Linked DNA regions of Homo sapiens: regions 2 and 3 are each linked to region 1. Evidence: fine-mapped expression QTL. A gene starts in region 1. Each other region holds a variant in brackets. All regions are shown on one strand. Distances are between the middles of the regions. Region 1 holds the start of ID2 (inhibitor of DNA binding 2). Region 2 has its middle 85 kb from the start of LINC00299. Region 3 overlaps LINC00299 (long intergenic non-protein coding RNA 299).

The links.
Region 2: its variant is fine-mapped to the expression of ID2 in whole blood (TOPMed, PIP 0.97).
Region 3: its variant is fine-mapped to the expression of ID2 in whole blood (TOPMed, PIP above 0.99).

Annotation. Positions count from the first base shown.
Region 1 is chr2:8,680,424-8,683,225 of GRCh38, reverse strand. It overlaps ID2 (inhibitor of DNA binding 2), which reads right to left and starts at 1,170. Exons shown (of 3, transcript NM_002166.5): 1 at 713-1,170; 2 at 320-383. The coding sequence starts at 1,060. The coding sequence ends at 327. It overlaps ID2-AS1 (ID2 antisense RNA 1), which reads left to right and starts at 1,363. Exons shown (of 4, transcript NR_110154.1): 1 at 1,363-1,399. RefSeq lists enhancers at 931-980, 1,468-1,971.
Region 2 is chr2:8,412,508-8,415,309 of GRCh38, reverse strand. No RefSeq gene overlaps it. Among named protein-coding and RNA genes, the nearest start is that of LINC00299, 85 kb to the right of the region's middle. The variant G/A (reference allele first, on the strand shown) is at 1,589.
Region 3 is chr2:8,302,527-8,305,198 of GRCh38, reverse strand. All of the region lies in intron 2 of LINC00299 (long intergenic non-protein coding RNA 299), which reads left to right. Among named protein-coding and RNA genes, the nearest start is that of LINC00299, 25 kb to the left of the region's middle. RefSeq lists an enhancer at 1,102-1,321. The variant G/C (reference allele first, on the strand shown) is at 1,470.

The sequences.
Region 1 (2,802 bases):
ACCTCATAGTACCAGAGGACTCGTAGGAAGATCCAGGGCATTACATTTGCTACAAAGCCAATACACACGTTCCTCGGCCGCCTTCGTAGTAAGTTATTGGCATCATTTCCTTTTAAAGGAAAATGTTCTGTGATCTCGAGCACCCAAAGCTACAAGCTCCTTCATGTCTAGTGAGACAATGTAGTACGGGTAACACCGCGAAGTAAGCATGCATTTACCAAATCAGACATTTTATAGATACACAAGCAAAAACACATGCGCGCGCGCGCACACACACCGAGGGGCAGTTTACCCACGGGTGGCACAAGCAAACACTCACCGCTTATTCAGCCACACAGTGCTTTGCTGTCATTTGACATTAACTCAGAAGGGAATTCAGAAGCCTGGAAAGAAAGAGGATAAAGAGTACGAGGTTAAGACAATGTTAAGTAGAAAGGGTTTTTTTTTTTTTTTTTTTTTTTTTGTAGTCCACAGACCAGCAAGTTCCATTAAACACGTTTATGGTAACAATTCAGATTTAAAGACAGACGCATTAACATGTCAGAACTTACTAGCAATTTCACGCACAGCTCAATCTACAGCAGATTCTGAAGAAAATAAAGTTAAATAGCTCATACGAAAGTCACCGTCTGGGCTACGGATCTCCTAGTGACAGCCCAGACGACCGCGGGAGTGTGCGGCGGCGGGGCGGGGACCCCGGAGCAGGTCTTACCTGCAAGGACAGGATGCTGATATCCGTGTTGAGGGTGGTCAGCGGCGTCCTGGACGCCTGGTTCTGCCCGGGTCTCTGGTGATGCAGGCTGACAATAGTGGGATGCGAGTCCAGGGCGATCTGCAGGTCCAAGATGTAGTCGATGACGTGCTGCAGGATTTCCATCTTGCTCACCTTCTTGTTCTGGGGGATGCTGGGCACCAGCTCCTTGAGCTTGGAGTAGCAGTCGTTCATGTTGTATAGCAGGCTCATCGGGTCGTCCACAGGGGTTTTGCTCCGGGAGATGCCCAGGCTGTGGTCCGACAGGCTGTTTTTCCTAACGGACCTCACGGGACTGAAGGCTTTCATGCTGACCGCGAGGGAAGGCGAGACCGGGAGGGAGCTGGCTGCCCTGAAGCTCAGGCCGCCGCTGCCGCCTGCTGAGCTAGCTGCGCTTGGCACCGGGCTCGGCTCAGAATGAAGCCCGAGCCCGGCGGGGCGGCTTTTATCCGCACTCGCCGGGGCCACACGCTGGAGCTTCCCTTCGTCCCCATTGGCGGAAGGTGGCACGTCTATCAAGACGAGCGGGCGCTTCCATTGGTGGGCGCGGGCGCGGGGCGTGGGCTTGGTTCTTCCGCGTTCGCAGCCAATCCCCGCGGGGTGGGCGGGGCGCGAGCCCAGCTGGGGTGGTAAATAGAGTACAGTACAGTAAGTGCGGGGCTGGCGGGGGGCGGGGGGCGGGGAGCGGCGGGCGGGGGGCGGGGAGGAGGGAGGCGGGAGGAGGGAGAGGAGGAGGGAGGAGGAAGAGAAGGGAAGATGGGGGAGGGGAAGGGGGAGGGGAAGGGGGAGGGGAAGGAGGAGGGAGAAGGGGGCAGACCCTGGGCGCCTAAATATGCATTCTTAATTCTAATTCCAAGCGCGCGGCGGGACCCTTGCCCTGGGGGTGTTCCCAGACCAAGCCCTACACACCTTAGAGCTGTCGGCAGCTCTAAAATCACAGCTACACGGGCGAGTTCAGCACCGCAGGGGGGAAGCCACAGTTCACTGCAACCCATCGGAGGGAGAGCGTGAGGAAAGATAGAAAGCATTTCAGAAGAAAGTGAAAACGCAAATTAGGTTGTCACTGAAGAGTCACGTTTGTAGAGTGAGTTCGTCTCTTCAGATAAGGAAAAGTTATGTTAACACAAACAAACCACCCACGCACGCATTCGACGACAGGCTTAGTGTGGGCTTTTGCAACCCGGAGCAGCGCGGGAGGCATTACTGTAAACTCAAGAAAATGAGTACTTATTGCAAACCATGCCCAACCTCACCGGTCGCTAAGGAGCTCTCACAGGCAGGGCGCTTTCAGGGTTCCTTTTCAAGAAGGAGGCAGGGCTATTATAATGATCGTATTAATCGGAAATAATTAGGAGAATTTGCATATTGAAACTACATTTACATACACTGCCCTTGAAAGGCTGCCGGTCTGTGCCCTTCCGTGTAGGTGGCAAAGTAATGTGATTAATTATGCACTAATTGTGATTTCTGGTGTCACATTCCAACACCTAGAGGAGTTCCAAAGCTTTGTGACAGATAGGTGGCCCTAGCCATTGATAGACATCTTCACACTAAGGAAAAAAAAATATTCTGTCATATGAGGTTTGGAATCTTTTCAGCACTAGTACTGAATACGGGTTCAAGGTTTTTTTTTTTTTTTTTGGCTGAAAATCTTTTAAGAACTCGTTCTTTCAGTCTAAGTTTTAAAAAGTTTGCAGCTATTTACTTAAATACCTTAATTTTCACATAATTGTAGCTTATCTAGAATTCTGTTTTGACCACAGTGTGTCAGTTTCTTGTTTTTGAAAATATTTGCTCCAGAAAACAATGAACTAGAAAACTCCAGGAAAGGCAATATTCAAATCTTATTTACTTTCTGCCTCAATCTCTACCTCCTTTGCATTTCAGAAAGCGGAAGGGGCAGGCCTAGAAGCTGAAAGAAAAGCTCGATAATGGGGAAACAGTGTTTTTTCCTTCAATTAATGATTAATTTCTCAGCTGGTGGGGCCAGCAGTCTCTGACCGTCACGTGACAGCTATGCGCCCCATGACGCCTCTCCAGGGAGGCAGAGT
Region 2 (2,802 bases), 270 kb after region 1:
TAACACAATGTTAAAAATTGGTGGGCTTGTCTGGCACTGAGTGCTCAGCAACCTGCTCTTTGTGCATCGTCTCCATCTGAGATGAGCCAAGTCACAGCTTGTCTCCAGAGGATGAAGGACTTGCTCAAGACCAGTAGGTGTGCTGAGCCCAGAGGGCCAACTGTTCCCACCCAGTGCCGTGTGCCTGTGTGGCTGCCTCGCAGCTAGGCTGCGTCAACTTGCAACTTGGCCTCTGTGCTGGGAGGCAGCCACTCCTTCTTCCCTCTCTGAGGATTTTGACAATGTCTTCCTCATGACCCCTCATTATGTTCCAGCACCAGGAGCATCACTGCGAGGTGGCTGCACAGAAGTGGAGATCTGAGGTGGGCGGGAAGCCCCCTTTCTCCTTTAGGTTTGCATTTGAGGATGAGTCAAGAGGACTTAGGTCTATTTTTATTTTTTTGAGGCAGGGTCTCCCCCTGTCACCCAGGCTGGAGTGCAGTGATGTGATCATGGCTTAATGTAGCCTGGACCTCCTGGGCTCAATTGATCCTCCCACCTCAGCCTCCTGAGTAGCTGGGTAGCCAGGCAGGTGCATGCCACCATGCCTGGCTACTTTCGAATTTTTTGTAGAGATGGGCTTTCACCATGTCACCCAGGCTGGTCTTGAACTCCTGAGCTCAAGAGATCCACACACTCAGCTTTCCAAAGTGTTGGAATTACAGACATGAACCACCACGCCTGGCCATATTTATTAATTTTTAAAATGAAGGATCCAGGAGTAAAATTTTGGCCACTGAACAGAAGAACCTGCTGCAAGACAACACTCTTGATTTTTGTTGTTTGTCTGTTTGTTCGCACTATCTGCTGGGCTTTTTTTTTTTTTTTTTTAACTGTAGTTATCCTGACTTCAGATTTTTCCAGGTGATTTTTTTGGGGTGCAGACTTGAAGAAGGCTTGCCTCAAATCACCTGTCCCTGAAGTAGCCGGCAAGGGCAGTGCTGTGGGCTCAGCCAGTTCTGAAGTCTGAGGAACCTGGGCATTTCCAGTGCCCAGGTAATATATCTGTTTCTCACTTTTTCAAAATCACCTGATTGGAATATATATATATATATATTCATCATATATATAATGCAGAAACACTTAGACATGTGAAGCAAAGCTTCACTTTTATGGGCTTATTTTTAAAGGGTACATGCTGTTGTGTGCCAGATCATAGTTACCTTTGAATGATCGGGTTGTATCTACAAATAGCTTGCACACCTCTTGCTAAATGTTTTCCTGTTGGCAGAAGCCCGCCAGTGTGTTGAAAGACTTTCACAAGAGCTCTGGCCCATCTCTCTCACGGTCCTTCTGTATTTTATTGGCTGCTTTTGCTGATAAGAAATGCCTATGTGATTTGGACTGTAACTGCATCAGGAAAAAGTCAAAGTACTAAGTCCAGAGAGAGCCTCTTTATTTATTTTTTTAAAAGTATGTGTTTGCCTCTACAACCCAGATATTCTTTCTCCTCACCTCAGCAATTTGTTCACAGAGTACGTTACTCAGGGTGAGGTGGCCAGACTCACTTATTTGCCTGGGTAGCGCTGGTTTGCAACGAATTGTCCAG[G/A]TGTTGTAAGTAGTAACTTCTCCTTCTGCTCTCAAAAATGACCTTGTGTGGACAATACAGGATATGACCATCCTACTTAGAGTCCCCTTCCCCCACCCCTGACAGTTTCTGCACATTGCATTGACACCACATTTTTTGAAGAGGCACATTTACCTCTGGCTGGTCCTGTGTGTGAAAACAATTCTGTTCATTTCAAAGCTGTCCATGGTATAGTGGCCATGGTTTTTATCCTTGGCTTCTTTAGAAAAAACCCAAATGTACCTGGTTCCTCTTGACCAGTTTTCAACTGCAAACTGAGAGGGGGGAGGCATGCTTCCCTGAATTCTCATTCCCTTTGGTGCTGAGGCAAGGGGAGTACAAATGGTCTTTAAAGAAACAGTTTAGGCTGGATGCGGGGGCTCACACCTATAATTCCAGTATTTTGGGAGGCTGAGGCGGGTGGATCGCTTGAAGCCAGGAGTTCGAGACCAACCTGGGCAACATGGTGAAACTCTGTCTCTACTAATAATACAAAAATTAGCTGAGTGTGGTGGTGTGCCTGTAGTCCCAGCTACTTGGGAGGCTGAGGCATGAGAATTGCTTGAACCCGGGAGGCAGATTGCAGTGAGCTGAGATGGCACCACTGCACTGCACCCTGGGTGACAGAGAGAGACTGTGTCTCCAAAACAAAACAAAACAAAAAGAAAAGAAAAGAAAATTGAGAAGTTTGAAAACGCCTTGATGTTCGGGTGTGCTGGGGCAGCCTTCTCCAGCCTGCCTCTCAAGGGGCTCTGTGATGTGCTCTCCCTCCACAAGGAGCATTGGTGTGGTGCCATGCAGTTATTTGGGAGCCTGTTGTCCTATCCTGCCGTCTGTTGCAGTTTTACAATGTCATTTCCCCAGATTCCTTCAGGAATGTTTCCTCACAAAGGCCTGCTTTTGCAATGCCCCAGGGAGCGATTCTGTCTCATTTTCTTGCTCTTTTTCTTGCTTAGCACTTAATGAACTTTTCTTGGCTGTTTCAACTGTCAGCATTTAAAGTCTGCTGGTGAATGTTGGTTGGCTTTCTCTGTGCTAAACTGGACCATTCAGTGGCGATTATAGTTCTTCAACATCATGAGAAATTTGAGGGAAAGGCGAACCTTCCAAAAGTCTCTCAATGCAGCAGGAAGTGCGTCTGGCAGAAAAAGGAAGGGGAAAAAAAGCCCTCAAGGTCCATTCTCTTCTCATAAGAC
Region 3 (2,672 bases), 380 kb after region 1:
TAGAATGAAACTTGTATTTTACCAGAAAACTAAGCCAAGGTCCCTAGAGAAATGGCTTTGCTTAGGCTTCACACTGTGGCTCAATGGCAGGTCAGAGACGAGGGCCCCACACCTCGGTGTCTAGCCAGGGATCTGGCCCTAGCACCGTGTTGCTGAGTCATGTCGGGCTGCCTAGGGGATGTCGCAGAAGGAGCTCCTGGAGGACACATGCGTTCATCATCTGCTCAAAACTGCACAGCAGGTGAATGGTGACATTGACACATCAGAAAAATAACAGACTGCTTGGAGGGCGACGTGCTAAGCACTTAACGGGAATTATCTTAGTAAGTCTTTACGCCACTGTGATGAAGTAGGTAGCGTTCTCATAATTGCCATTTTACAGATGAGGACACTGAGGTTCTGGGAGGTTAAGAAACTTGCCCAAATGATGTAGTAGGTGGCCAAGCTGGAATTCCAAAGCAAGGATTTGTAAAGATTATGCTAATCAAAACTCCCACTGCCCTTGTCTGTTTTTGTTCTTCCCCTAAAGCATACCTACGTTTTCTTGTCTCAGGGAGCATGATGTGTGAAGGACTTTGGTTCTCATTGGCCAGAGACACCGAGTCCATCTCAGTCTGAAGTCCTGGGATCTGAGATTCCCTGAGTGTGTGGATTCCCTGCTAGGCAGGATGCAGTTTGACTGACGAGTTCCTTTTCTTTTATTTTCTTCTATTTAGCGACTTGCTTTTCCTGATATCCTCTTTTAGGAGGCTGTTAGGCCCCTGGGCCAGAGGCCTTTTATAGCACCCAAAAAATTGCCTTGTAGCAATCTGACAATTTTTTATAATAATTTGGGTCTTATTTCTAAATACAGTAACAATTTGGGGTCTTTTGTGTTATTTTTGTGTTTTGGCTCACCATCATTCAGTTTGGATTTTGTTGTGTGAAGTTCCCCAACTCCTGGCCTATTTCCATCCACCCTTTTATTCATGGGATAAATAGTAACTGTGTACCTACCCCCAGAACCTCCTATGACAAGGCACCCTAGGGCTCAGAGTAAGTTGTCTTCCCCCCCCCCTTTTTTTGACTATTGATAACACAAATAAAGCTGCAATAACTATCTTGGTTGAGACACAGCTTTCTAAATGCTTGTCGATAGCTTGCTGGTGTACGACCTTAGTTTTTACCGCGTCCCTGCCTTGACCACCCATCCTGCCCTCAAGAGGACACAGGGCTCCTCTCTGGGAAGATCCAGGGTTGGCAGAAAGGAAAGATTTCCTTCTTGACTTGTGATATGGCCTCTGTGCCAGGCCCTGTGCTAGGCCCTGGGAATGGAGTGGGGAGCGAGGCTCAGCCCTGTCCTCTGGACAGCCTGGACTGGCTCTCTGCATCTTACATTTGATTTTTAACAACAGTAGGAGAGGATGAACGCTGGAGAGGAACAGAAACCAGAGATCTGGGCTTGCAGCCCTCCCTGTTAACCTCGACAC[G/C]GCCCCCTGTGTCCTCTTGGTTTCCTGTCCCTCACCACAAGAAGCAGTGTTCAAATCGGTTTCTAGATGGCTCCGATGTGGCCACGTTTGGGTGGGTCTGGTGCATGTTGGCTCAGCTGGGAACATGCCAGTGTTTGGGGGTTGTTGTTGTGCAAGCCTGAGGGCCGGCTCACTGCACGAGGTCAGGGTGTCCTGGTGGGCCTTGTTCTGCTTTGTGATGACAGCAGCCCTCCAAGACGGTCAAGCTTGACCATATAAATTACCGTATAAATAACCATGATGGGTATGAATGACTCACTTAATGATTTCATTTCTGTATTTCACACCTTTTGGTGCTACCATGCTATGCATTGAGGGTCCAGGATGTGTAAGGCACTAGCACAGCACCTGAGATATTTTTGAGTGGTGGGGCAGAGAATGTGGTACAAAAAGATGAATGAGGCTGGATGCAGTGGCTCACGCCTGTAATCACAGTGCTTTGGGAGGCTGAGTGGGGAGTATTGCTTGAGGCCAGGAGTTTGAGACAGCACTGAGGGTCCAGGATGTGTAAGGCACTAGTACAGCACCTGAGATATTTCTGAGTGGTGGGACAGAGAATATGGTACAAAAAGATGAATGAGACTGGATGCAGTGGCTCACGCCTGTAATCACAGTGCTTTGGGAGGCTGAGGGGGGAGGATCGCTTGAGGCCAGGAGTTTGAGACCAGCCTGGTCAACACAGCAAGATTCTGTTTCTTACATTAAAAACAGCAACAACAACAACAACAACAACAACAACAAACAACCACCCATGAACAAGATCTAAGGAGTGCAGGGAAGGCAGTGGGTGCCTCTCAGCACACAGTGAGGCTGGTGCGCTGAGAGGTTTCCCCTCATTGGGATTTCTTTGTTCTCTTTGCTATTCCTCCCATTCAAGCAACCCTTTCTCTGCTCTTCCCTAGGTAAGGGGTGTGAGAGCAGAAAGACAAGCAGTCCTCTTTCGGCTGCAGTGACCATTGGGGTGCTCTGCCCAGGTCTCCCCGCTAGCTGCAGTGACAGTTGATGATGGCCATGGCAGAGCCCGCACTGGATGCCCCCTCCTGCTGCAGGGAATGGCCTCTTTTCAGGTCATATCCCCCAGGTTCTGAAACTGACCGAGGAAGGAACGCAAAGGCTCGGCCCTCTTGCCTCAACTTGGGACAACTCTGATGGGCCGTCCCAGCT